Linked DNA regions of Homo sapiens: regions 2 and 3 are each linked to region 1. Evidence: fine-mapped expression QTL. A gene starts in region 1. Each other region holds a variant in brackets. All regions are shown on one strand. Distances are between the middles of the regions.

Evidence for each region. PIP is the estimated chance that this variant, and not a neighbour inherited with it, causes the effect.
Region 2: its variant is the best candidate, but not a certain one, in a credible set for the expression of GNG2 in whole blood (TOPMed, PIP 0.74).
Region 3: its variant is the best candidate, but not a certain one, in a credible set for the expression of GNG2 in monocytes after LPS (Quach 2016, PIP 0.55).

Annotation. Positions count from the first base shown.
Region 1 is chr14:51,858,648-51,862,890 of GRCh38, forward strand. It overlaps GNG2 (G protein subunit gamma 2), which reads left to right and starts at 1,965. Exons shown (of 4, transcript NM_053064.5): 1 at 1,965-2,143. RefSeq lists a silencer at 1,452-1,531 and enhancers at 1,584-2,085, 1,872-2,081.
Region 2 is chr14:51,966,249-51,970,491 of GRCh38, forward strand. It overlaps GNG2 (G protein subunit gamma 2), which reads left to right. Exons shown (of 4, transcript NM_053064.5): 4 at 311-3,547. The coding sequence ends at 439. Among named protein-coding and RNA genes, the nearest start is that of RTRAF, 21 kb to the right of the region's middle. The variant G/C (reference allele first, on the strand shown) is at 2,080.
Region 3 is chr14:51,911,750-51,915,992 of GRCh38, forward strand. The region is part of intron 2 of GNG2 (G protein subunit gamma 2); the gene reads left to right. Among named protein-coding and RNA genes, the nearest start is that of GNG2, 53 kb to the left of the region's middle. The variant T/G (reference allele first, on the strand shown) is at 2,068.

The DNA of each region.
Region 1 (4,243 bases):
AATAACATGCTTCTCATTTTTCTTAGACTTGGCATCATGCATATTTAAATTTACATTTAAAAGTTCCTGGTAACCTTTGGCACAAGGGTTCCTGGTTTGGAGATAACTCACATGTTGGTGGATTCATGCCCAATCCCTCTCACTACTGCATTTCTATCTGCTGGTGGATCAAAGCTAGTTGCTCATTTTCAATCTTAAATCAATCCATTTTGTAATTTTCAGGTGTGAGTGAGTTGACATCAGGGTCCTTTTTGATGAAAGATTTCCTTGAAAAAATAAGCAAACTGTTCAAATCAAAACAAAGGGTGTTTTGGGACTGTCTCAGAACATTTCATAGAAATTAAATTCTGTACCTTCTAGGTTAACGTGCTGTGGTCCTCACGATGTGTTTGGAAGGCTCAACTGGAGAGTTATTCTCCATCAGTCCTAGATTTCTAACATTTCCTGTTAGTTTACTTGCTGGAGGATTAAGGCAAAACTGGATTAAAAAGGAGGAGTTGGGGAATTAACTGTTTCCTGGCAAGATTAGCTTTCCAGGCACTGATTCCTGAGAAGAGGTGTTTTTTGTTGTTGTTGTTTTTGTTTTTAACTCCATAATGTTGCCTGGACACTAGAACAGGATTCCCCTTCCCCCATCTCATGTTTAATCTGTAGCTTCCCCAAAGTACCTTGTGTTAGTACTAGGGGGAGAATGACTCACACGTTGAATAAATTGTTATTAAAGCATCTGGGCTCAATTGTGAACATACTAATAGTGAGGAATTGGAAAACCAAGTACTGGTGAGGGTTCGGCTGCTGACTGGCGAAATCACTTGCTGAATGTGAGGCCCAACATCCTCTAAAAATAATAAGAGTTAATATGTGCCGAATACGTCCTATATCCCCAGAACTATTATTAGCACCTTGTATACCATCTCATTTAATCCTCATATTTCCAATGTAGAGCATGACTATCATCAACTATGTTTTGCAGATGAGGAAACTGAGGCACATAGATGTTAAATAATTTGCCCAAGTTCATACAGTCATTAATGGCAATTTGGATTGAAATTCTGGCAGACAGAGACAGCTTGCAGGCTCTACCCTGGTGGGTTCTACGATATTACCTCCTAAGATGAAGGGAAGGGACTGGAGGATCATGAGGGTCCTTCAGCCCTACTAGTGTGTGTGGAATGGGGAGAGGAGTATTCAGTTTCTCTGTTGGGAATGTGCAGCATTCAGCACCACCTCATTCCTTCCCATCTATGAGAATCTTTTGGGAATAGTCCTCACTATTAGGCCTATAGGTAGCATTGCCAACTTGGTTTAGTTCCCGTGCCCCATAAGAATACTTATCAGGGCCATTCTTTTCTGAGCATGTGGGTTAAGTAAGATCTCAGTGGTAGTGGGACCTTGGAGAAATGAAGCCTCTGAAATGTTGGCCACAGAGAAAAATGCTGCAGTGAGAAGCTGCAAGCTGCAAGCTGCAAGCTCCCAGCTAGCTGGCTTGATGGGGACCACAGTAAATCAGGAGGAACAGTGGAGGCTGGTGTGGGATCTCGGGGGCCAGAACCTGGCCAGGGGATGTTGACCCAAAAAAAAACAGCAGCAGCAGTAGAAACAACAACAGCAAGAACAACAATAGCAACAAGCCAGGTTCAGGCTAAAAAAGCAGGCAGTGTGCCAGGAAGGGGGCCGACTGAGCAGTGTGTGGAAGCTGTCGTGGAGGTGACCGTGGGGGGATGAGAAAAGGGGAAGGAAGGAACAGACAGCACCAGAGGGACTTGAACAAAGGGAGAAGGGGGATTAAAGTCAAATCACTGTCAGCAGCCCAGGAGCAGACAAAACCACCAGAGTAAGCCCTGAAATGGAAATGAGAGGGAAAAGAAGCAAGCCGCTAACAGCTACCAAGAAGAGGAGGAAGTGGGAGATGCGCTGCTTCCTGTAGAAAGAACGTTGATTGAAGACAAAGCTGGGTGGGGACTAGTCCCTGGGCTGCAGCCGCTGCTACACATACTCACAACGCTGCCGCCGCGCTCCGTGGGCAACTCCTACTACTGCTGGGCTGGGCTGGGCTGGGCTGGGCTGCGCCGGAGCTCGCCTGCACAGATCAGCTCCGGAGAGGGGAAAACCACGCTCCTCGGACCAAGCCTCGGGAGCTAAGGTAAATGAAACGTTTTCCATGTTGCTCGTTTTTAATTGAGAAAAACGACCGTCGCTTGTGGTTTTAAGGTCCGATTTCTAAGGGATGATAGAGACATCGCTTCAGGACTAGGGGAAATGATTAGATTCTTTTGGAAGGGTCTTTGAGAATAACCACATTTATGACACATTTGATTTAAAAAAACCTCATCATCAGTGCTTAGATTTGATGACTAAACAGGCCAACATGCTAAATACAAGAAGCTGTTTGTATAGTTCTCTCGGAGGAAAACCAGGGCTGAGTCGAAATCCATCTGGGGCTGTGAAGCTGTGGTCTGGTCATCGGAGCCCGGCAGTCCCCTTGTTTTAGGGGAGTGAGTGGTGTAAAATATTAATTGCATTCTCTTTCTTACACATTGCACTGGGATATCTTCTGTTTTGCAAAAATAATGGCTGTGATTTGGCTTTTGGGGGAGTTAAATTCTTTTGTACTTAGATTTTGCCAACAAAGGCTTGAATTGCGTATGTGAGGGGCAGTATTTACCATTAAAAAACAGTGTCTTCCTCCCTCAGCTTGTGCAGCTGCTTTCAGGATAACCTCAGACACAGCTATCATTTGCCAGTAGGTCTTATCCTAAAGTTGCATCCTTGTTCAAAGGAGCGTGGCGGGTTTAAGGCCAGTAACTTGTCCAGAATCAGATACTAGCATATGCATGGATTTTATGTTTATATGCATTTTATTCACCTCTAGGTCAAGGTGCATGTTAGCCTCGGTGAGGGACAAAATAAAAAAGTGCAGCTGGGTTGTTTCCTTACGCGAATATCTGGTAGATAGACTGAAGTAGTAAAACCAGAACATGATTTTTATTCTTTGATTTTCTTGAGCAAAGGATGTTCTTAATGAGAGCCTGGGTCTATGACTTGTTCATATTTATGAATGATATGTAAAAGTACACTAAATAGGTCTAGCAGATGAGAACTGAGATTGTGAGATTCCTCTGACAGGATATATTAGGGAGTTTAATACCCTCATGCAGCACGATTTAAAGAATTAAGCTTTTTTAATCTTCAACAGAAAGTACAGTTAAGCAGTAAGTAGTCATTGATAAAAGGGTTTTTCTTCTAGAGTTTCTATAATGAAAGGAGATAATTTTTCAAAAGAAAGAGAAAAAACTGCTTATAGTGGAGTAAAAATTTAAAAAAAGTCAATATTTTGACACTCACAGATTCTTGAAACATAGGTTCTTAGATACCAAATATGCTAGTTGAGAGTGTATGTATGTATATGCCTCCTCCTTTATCATCGTTCTCACTTGTTAAGAGCTATAGGGCTATTTTTAATGCTATCTTTATGAAATCGATATGGCTTCTCAAAATCTGTGGAGTAGCAGCACATTTTGAGAGATGGGAAGCTTTTATAGCTACTAAAGAAAAAAAAAGTCTATTTCTCAGAGGTTTTTTGCTCATTAAAGTAAACCTGCACCATGCCTAAGAGACAAAGTACTGCTAGTATTGAAACCATGGAACTCCTTGAAGGATTCACTGAATTTAATCAAACTTGTGGGCAAAACAAGTCGTGACATGGATTTTGCAGTTCCACTTCCTATTTGCATCTTAAAGGGAAGTATGTAAAGATCATCTTCTTAGAGAAGAGACCTAGGATAGATCTTCGATCCAGAATGACCCAGTGGAGTTCTAGAATCAAGCTGTGCATCATGAAATGAAGTAAAAAGTTGGCAACCTGAGCTGCATGGATAAGGACAGGCTTACCCTTTGGTACTTACTCCTCTGCAGGCTGTATTCACTAGATAATGCCAACACCCTACTTTGTTTGGGGAGGCACAGACAATCTGCATTAGTCTTCTGTGTGTGTTTCACACATGAGTAAGAAAATGAAACCTTGCCCGACGGGCATAGTAGAGTCAAGAGGGCCTTGCTATCTTTCTGAAAACAACTAAGAGGTGCCTATTTTCTGCACAGCACAAAACATTTCTTAATCGTTAAATTCCAGCTTGAAGCAGAACATTAGTGAGTAACAGCAGATCAGTAACTATGATGGTAGAATGTTTAGGAAAAAGATGAATATGCTTCTACATTGTAAAATGAAACTATTTCCACTTAT
Region 2 (4,243 bases), 110 kb after region 1:
GACAGCCACCTGCGGGGCTATGGAAGTGCAGGGTTGACACCTGCATGCCCCTGCCAGCGAGTGCCTCCTTCGGTTCTGCACCCTAAGTGCCTCACTCACCTTAACCTAGTCCCAGACTTGCTGGCAACAATCCTGTAAGGTCAGTGTCGTCAACTTTCTTCTTTGCAGATGAGGAAGCAGAAGCTTTTAGAGGCTGAGTATCTTGCTTCATGGAGCAAGGATTTGATGCCAGGACATTGGGCTCTAAAGCCTTGGGCCTTGACTGACTGTACCAGACTCCAGTGTTGGTTGTTTTTGTCTCCCTTTCCAGGTGTCCAAGGCAGCTGCAGATTTGATGGCCTACTGTGAAGCACATGCCAAGGAAGACCCCCTCCTGACCCCTGTTCCGGCTTCAGAAAACCCGTTTAGGGAGAAGAAGTTTTTCTGTGCCATCCTTTAAGTCTTTGAGAGGGGCCTGAAGAGCCTCCGGGCTCCTGGGACATTGATGTAGAGTTTTTAGTGAAGTGGGCACCTTTCTAGTCCACGGCATTTGAAGAGAGCGAGGAGAACCATTCTGGAAACTCTAGGCTATGCATGTTTAAAGATCTGGTCCCCTTTATGAGAATGCAAGCCGATCCACATCCTGACTTAAGAGATCTGATTCTGACGAACTGCCTGGAGGAGGGGAATATATAAAAATAAAATTGGTGTCACTTCTTTTCTGCTATCCCCCAGCCCCCCCCCCAAAATCCTCATGTTTCTGCTTCATATTTTGAAAAATAACAATTAAAACAGACAGCTGTACTGAGGTAAGATATGTGTGACCTTCTTGGAATGAATATTGTCTTTAGAATACCCTTTGATAAGCTGAGCTGTCCCGTGTAGATGCAATTCGGTTTAATGGCATTGATGTATAGTCACTGTGCCTTTCTTTTTCTTTCTTCCTTCTCCTCTACCCCTCCTTCCACCCCTCCCCATTAGAGTAGTGTGGAGATAAGGCTGGACTGGTCTATCAGATTGAACTCCAAGAATGATCACACAAAATGTTTAGGGAGATGTTCCCCGTGGTGTATCCTCATGGTAACAACGACAAAAAATGCCGGTTGTCTGTGTTCTCTTTTCACTATTCCTAACATGTGTACATGATAGCTTTGATTCTGCAAGTAAAAGTAAATCCTGTGTTGTGACTGGTGCTTTCATATATTTGTGACAATTTTTGAGTAATATTGCATGAAAATGTCCCTATGTTACATCCATTCAGAAGTTTTGTTGTTTTACTCTAAAGCTGGGAAAGGAAATGAGAGGGAAAAGACCCCGGAGAGGGAAGAAAATCTCAGTATTTTGAAAATTGAGATTACTTCAGAGCCTTAGCCACACCTAAAATACCTCCTAGTTAATAGTGGTATAAATGCCTCTTCAATACGTTTTCCAGAATCCAAAGCATTTTGGTTTATCCAGGACCCAGGGCAGCACAGCTGTCACCAAGCAGGAGAGTTAAGGATTCACCATGAGCTGGGAAATGCTTTTGCCATGAGTATGAGCAAATTCCCTCTTTCCCTGAATCATGGACATTCTAGATTAAAAGAACATTTTTTTGTGCTCTTAACAAGAAAACCATGGCCCTCCTTTGTTCAAGTATCAGAAGAAATAAACCCACAGCTCCAGAGAAGGTGACCATTCTCAGAACTCCAGCTATTCACTCTCCAGGGAGAAGGACCTCAAATCGCCACTCTTTGGGCGGCAGGTGCGGTCCCCACGGCCGGCTCTACGAGGAAGAGTTCTGGCTCTTTTGTCCACTGAGATGGTCTTGGTTTTTCACTTAACAAATTTTTTAATGGAATCTTTGTTTTTGTTCTCCATCTTGTTTGTTAGAGTCTCTCGGCCTTTATTTACAAATTCCTTGCAACTAGAGCGCTCCTTCCCCAAGATATGGTAGTGAGAGTAATTTTTCATTGTAGCTGTAGTCTCCATCAGTAACAGCAGGCCCTGGAAGACTTGATCACCTTTTTCTGTGTCATTTTCAGTCAAAGAGGGCCTCTCTTACATCTTGTTTGCTTTCAAATCCCCAAATATCATCTCCATCTCCCAATTAATTTTATT[G/C]TCTCTTTCCTCTCTATTCGCTTTCTCCTGTTTTTTTTTTAAAAAAAAAGCATGAAAAAGGAAGAGAAAAAGTTTGATATGCCAAGGACAGATTTTGAAACAGACTTGGTAAATGTTTTCCTTAGCTCCTTCATGGGCATGCTGGTGAAAGAATAAATACATCCAATTAAAGCTCATGCTGGGGTCGGGGAGAAGAGGATACTGAAACATTTGTGAAATGTATGAATGCACTTCTGTAACCAGATACTTCTGTTCTTCTGTTCAAATTGTGGGGTTTTTGTTACAGTTAGGACGCCCATGAAGATTTAGGGGTGAAAAAAACAGCAGAGTATTTATTAAACTACAGCATTGTACAATTAGCTTAGTAACACTATGGAATAAGCTAAAACATATCACAGTTTTTACATGGGCCAAAACATGAATTGAGTATGTGGTCACATGAAAACACGGATGAATGAATAAAACACTCTTTGGTGGTGACTGAGGCATCATTAGAAGGCCCAGACGATTTCCACTATTCACAGCATTTCCTTTTCTCAGAAGGACTCTTTATATTTCCATGTAAATCTAGATCTTTGGAGCAATTAAGATGGAATTACAATTTCTAGGGAGCATTTTAAGGAAAATGTTTTGGCTTTTTCATAATTTTATGTCTTACAGTATGGAATTATAATACGAAAATCTTTATATGAGTTTTGGCTTCTTGGTATTTGTACTTATTCAGGGGAAAAAGTCTTTCGATTACTTATGCCTCTATAGAGCTTAATTTCTTGAGAAATTCAACAGTCATTTTCACCAGCATAATTTTATCTTAAGGAATAACTAATAGGAAAAGTCAGCTTAATTATTTAAGGCCCTAGTTTCTACATATAATATATTCGATAGAAATGAAAATCTGCCGTGGAATTAACTAATAAGTAGTAACAATAAACTTCATATTTAGAATGCAAAGTCTATAAAGAATAATTTTACATGATCCTCAATATCAACTCCAGTTTAAAAAGTGTTATTTTTAAAACATTTGAAACCAAGTACTGTTTAATTTCAATCAGAAGATGCAAATACATACTTTGATCTATGTTTGATTTTGCTAATAATATTTGAAGGAGATTGCCTACCAAGGACAAAACAATAAATTTAAAAATCAAACGATTTCTCCATACGCTCATAGTCACATATGGAATTTTGAGAAAATAAAGCATGCTGTCTTTAGGAATTTTTATACTTCTTTGTCTTTCTTCCTTAATATTTGCTTCTAGCTGCTCTTGGCAATGATGAATTGTTATGTATGCATTAATGTTTTGCAGCCCAAAAGTTGTTCACATTTTTCCTATATAAGATCTGTGGAGTGTGTGTTTCAAAGAGAGAACTACAGAAATGTTAAAGCAGGAAAACCTGAATGTGATGTGCACATTTTCATCCCACATGGACAATGTATGTGTTTTAATAAATGGAATTTTCAGATTCATTTCATATGCAGTCAATTTCATTGTGACGGCCACTGATTCTGTGGTCAATTTGAGAAGGATCTGATGGTATGAATGGATGAGGAAATAGGAATCCATTGATTTTCTTTAGGATTTTGTTAATAGAGATGTCCGAAAGAAGAAAAAACTCACTTGACACTCTAAAAGCATTTCTTACTAGGTCTGTACATCTTGGGTACAGCCTTTGGGGACAGAGAAAGGTGGGGGCTGTGAGGAGAGCCCAGGGCTCTGATAGGGTGGAGTATGCAGACAGAGGAGCTGTATTTACACTTTCACTTGCTGCAGGTATGCCACAGTGGGCTTTTTCCCTTATGAAAAATAAAGACTGAACAACAGAAGTGCTGTTCTCTGTAGCTATCTGTGATTTAAAAGGAGTACAGGAGAAGCTAAGTCCTTAGAACTCTAGATGCAGCTGCTCCTTGGAGATCTTCTTAGTCGAGAAAGACTTCTGAATGTTCCTCAGATTATGCCAGTAACAGACCCTGTTAGTAAAGAAGGAAACACTGGATCTCCTGGGACTTGTGCCAGCAACAGCAGCATCTTTAAACCACGGATGAAGGGGGCCACTTGGAGTTTGCACACTAGTGCTCCACTGACATCAGTGTTTCTCAGACTGTGGTCCATGGACCACTTGCTCCAGGAGTATTAATACCTGGAATGCCTCTTTACAAAGCGGA
Region 3 (4,243 bases), 53 kb after region 1:
ATTTCCCAGACCGGTCTCCAAACTCCTAGCCTCCAGTGATCTGCCTACTTTGGCCTCCCAAAGCACTGGGATTACAGGCGTGAGCCACCATGCCCATCCTGATAGCCTTTTCTTATGTTTTTTTTTTTTGTTGTTATTGTTAGATTAAAGGAGTTGAATCATGAAAAGGGCTTTATATAAAGTAATTGCTTAGTAAATGAAAAAAAGTATAGCTAATAGTGTCAGGCACTGTTCTAGGTACTTTACATATATTATTTACTCTTCACAAGCTCCCAGGAAATATGTGGTGGTGTTATCATCCCCACTTTCAAGATGAGGAAATGGAGGCACACAGGTTAAGTAACTTGCCCAGCATCACCTATTGAGTAAATGGCAGAACTGAGACTCAAACTTGGGCAGTGTGGCCCAGAGCCCAAGCTCTTGACCACTTTGCTGCACTGCCTCTCAGCCATATATAAATGTTAGCTTTCATTATTCTTGGGAGATGGGGAAGAAAGAATGGGGGAGATATAGTAAGAATGGCCAGAAAAGGAAGAGAGCACTAAGATTCCCTTGTACCTTAGGCAGGACTGTGAGCTGCTCCCATCTTCTATCCCCACACCCCAACCCCCAAAATCCCTTAATTCCAGTGGCTCAGCCTAAATACTGAATGTGTCCTGATAATGTTACACCCTCACTGATTCCAGTTAGGTGAGGAAGAGACTGTCACTTCCTGCTGTTGCTACGGCTGCCCTGGTTGGTGAAGGTTGAGCAGAGGTCTTTCCAGAGATGCCTAACACCATCTCCAGGACAAAACTCCTCTGTGGGTGGAGTCCTGTCCACTTTCATTACTGCTGGGCTTCTTCAGACAAACCAGAAGTGCCCAGGGGTAAAATTCCCAAAACAATTGCATAATTGACCAAGTCTGACATTCTCGAGAGAGCTATTCCCTACAAGGTTACCAGCCTGGATGCTTTCTTCTAAGATGTCAGTGATTCTAATATGAGGCCAAAGGCCCCACACAGGTGAACAACATTGTGTGGGCAGTCCTTATAAAAACCTTACATCAGATATTATGCTGCAACGTGTATTTCAGCTACTGGCTTGGTTTTGGGGGTGGGGGTGGGGGTGTGTGTGTGTATGTGTGTGTTTTGTTTCTTTGAGGTGGAAGATAGCCCAAGAAAAATGAAAACAAATGTTTAAGTAAAACTGCTGAAGCTCACTAAATCGGCTAGAAATTAATTAATTGAACCTGTAAGCTTATGTTTCTGCTTTCAAAGGGATGATACTGTGAAGTGTTCAGGAATGAAGTCTCGTGATGTCTGCTACCTAGTTTCAAATGGCAGGAGAGACAGAGGGATGGGGAAGCAAAAGTGACCATTGTTAACTCTAGGTGGTTGGTAAGTGGGTGTTCCTTGTTTTATTCTTTCACCTGTAATGTATGTTTATGTTTTTTAAAAGTTAATAAGTTGGAGGATGATAGAAGCATTAAAAAGTAGGCCGGGTATGGTGGCTCATGCCTGTAATACCAACACTTTGGGAAACTGAGGCAGTAAGCTCCCTTGGGGCCAGGAGTTTGAGACCAGCACAGGAAACATGGCAAGACCTCCTTTCTCAAAAATTTTTAAAAAAGAAAATTAGCCAGTGTGGTGGCTTGTGCCTGTAGTCCCAACTACTTGGGAGGATGAGGCAGAAAGCTTGCTTGAGCCCGGGAGTTAGAGGTTACAGTGAGTTAAGGTCGTATCACTGCACTCCAGTCTGGGTGACAGAGTGAGACCCTGTCTCTAAAAATAAACAAATAAGTTTATGGGGGAGAGCGGAAAGAACAGGTGCCATGGGATCATAGGATGAGAGGGCAGTACAGGATGAATGGTCCTTTCCCCCATTGTCATCACCTTTGAGATCAGGGAAGAAGCAGAGATGTAGAGAGGAGGTCTAGAGGTTGTATGGAGGAGCAACTGATCAAAAAGCTGTGCTCTAGATAAAGGAATAAGCACAGAGCTCTTAGTACTGCTGTAAAACTAGAAGTTACTGTGGGAGTGGAGGTGACATCCTTTAAGTTACATTTACAAGTTCTATTATTAGGAT[T/G]AAAGTACTCTATATTCTCCCTTAAAACTGACCACCAACAATGAAAATGTTGCATGTATATAATTTATGCATATGTTGCATATATAATGTATGCATAAAAGTTACATATATCCAAATACCTTTTTCATACATATGTTTCATTTCATATATATGAAAAACAATGGGAAGAATATCACTAAAATTTTATCTGTAGGTAAGAATTTCCATGTGTGCTTAAAACTGGGAGTCACTGTATCCAATATAAAGTTCAAGGTGTTTTGTTTGCTTGCTTGCCTTTTTATCTACTTTTGCAGAAGATATTGAAATTGCAATCATCTTGTTTTTGGGGGAATGGAGTCATTCCATATTGGCTCTTGAGTATGTCTGCCACCACTCTGATTCTAGCTGGAGGCTGCCAGAAATGACTGTGCCATTGAATGGAGTTATTAGGCAACATAAAACGGACAAGCCAGACCAAGGTAGAATGGAAAAGGACTGCCGTCTCAGGCCATTTCATTATGTCTGAAAGAAAAACTGATGAAGAAACACAGGCCACAGTAACCATAGCTCCTGCTCTAATCCTTTCTCCCTGAATCTTCTTGAAGGATCCTTGTGCTAAGGTTCCCAAGGTGCGGGAGGGATTAGAATGAATGCTGTTTTGGCACGAGGTTTGGTAAATCATCTTGGGTGTTAAGTCCCGTGTAGAATTACCTAATAGTAATGAGGTGTCGGCAGTTTTGTATCTATTTAAAGCTTTAACTAGACCACATGAGTAATGTGCTTTCAGGTGCTTATCTCTAATTAATTAATTCATTTGTAAGTGAAATACCTAATTAAAGCAGTCTAAGGGAGCTCCTTTGCGGCCTGGATCTGGTAGATCCGGTAACAAAGAGAGGTCTTTGCTGATGCAACTTGTTGAACTGATCCTCATGGGCTATTAGCTTCATCAGATTTCATTTGAAGAGTTCTTTATGTTTTTTTGTGTTTTCAAATGTAATACAGACCAAATACTGGTCTTTGATGCTGACGAGAGTCACTCACTTACGCATAACTTTGGAAGAAACCTGAAGATGGTACGATTGGGGTCTCAATTGGGGGGAAATGGACAAAGATGATACATGCCCTGCCATCATGCCTTTCTGTCATGTACACTGTCATCAGGCAAGGCCAAAAAGCCTGTCACTCCATGACTGCTTGCTTGAGTTTAAAAGTTCAGGGTCATTTCTTTCTACTTAGGCATTTGCTTTGCCTTTACTTTATCAGAAAACTATGTAACCCAAAGTATTTACCATTTCACTTCAGCTACTAAGAGATGTTGGCCACGTTTAGAGCTTAAGTGTATGAATCAATTCAGTTGTCTCTTCCCTGTACTCCCACTAACCTTCTTTGTTCTTTTCTTAGAATAAGGGCATCATCCTTAAAGGTAAAAAGCCAAGGCCTTCTGTGAAGGGCAGTTTACTGGTTCATAGATAAGGATGGCAGCTTTGGATTGAGAAACTTCTATTTTGTCATATTACACCTCTGCTACATTATGAGGGAGAGGATGCATTTCAGTGTAATAATTATGACTAACTTATAATGTGTTTTGCTTCTTGTAAACTGTTACTGCCCTAAATAGGATGAATGGAACAAAGAGCATAAATGAATTCACAAAAGACACCTAAGCTGCTCTGAGGATATGGGAGGGACTTAAAGAGGCAGCAAGGAAACAAATCGAATTTGGGGTAAATGGAAAATTAGGGAGGGGAAATGGGTAAATATGATACGTTAGAAGCCATCCGTTCTCTTTTATAAAGTGACTTTTTATTTAAAAGAAGAAACAAAAGTCTTCCTCTGAATTTCAGCCCAGCCCTTAAACGATTTCCCCACAACAGAAAATTGGTATTTTTCTAAAATATTTTGTGACTAAATGCTATTTGGAAAAAAAAGTGGTATTTCTTTAAATTAGTGCTTTGAAAGGAACACATACTTAGCCTGAATCACTTTTGCCTACATATGTGAATTATGGGTCTGTGTTTAGAACTTAGGAAACAGCTGCTGTACTCTGTTCCCAGACAAAGACACACTGCAGAATGCTACATCCAGGTTTGTGGGTTCTCCTGAGACTGTGGTGGTAGGTTTCAGGTAACAATATTTGCTGTGAGTTAAACCTGTAATAACTGTCATTTTCAGGACGGGAGGCATTACAGTTATACAG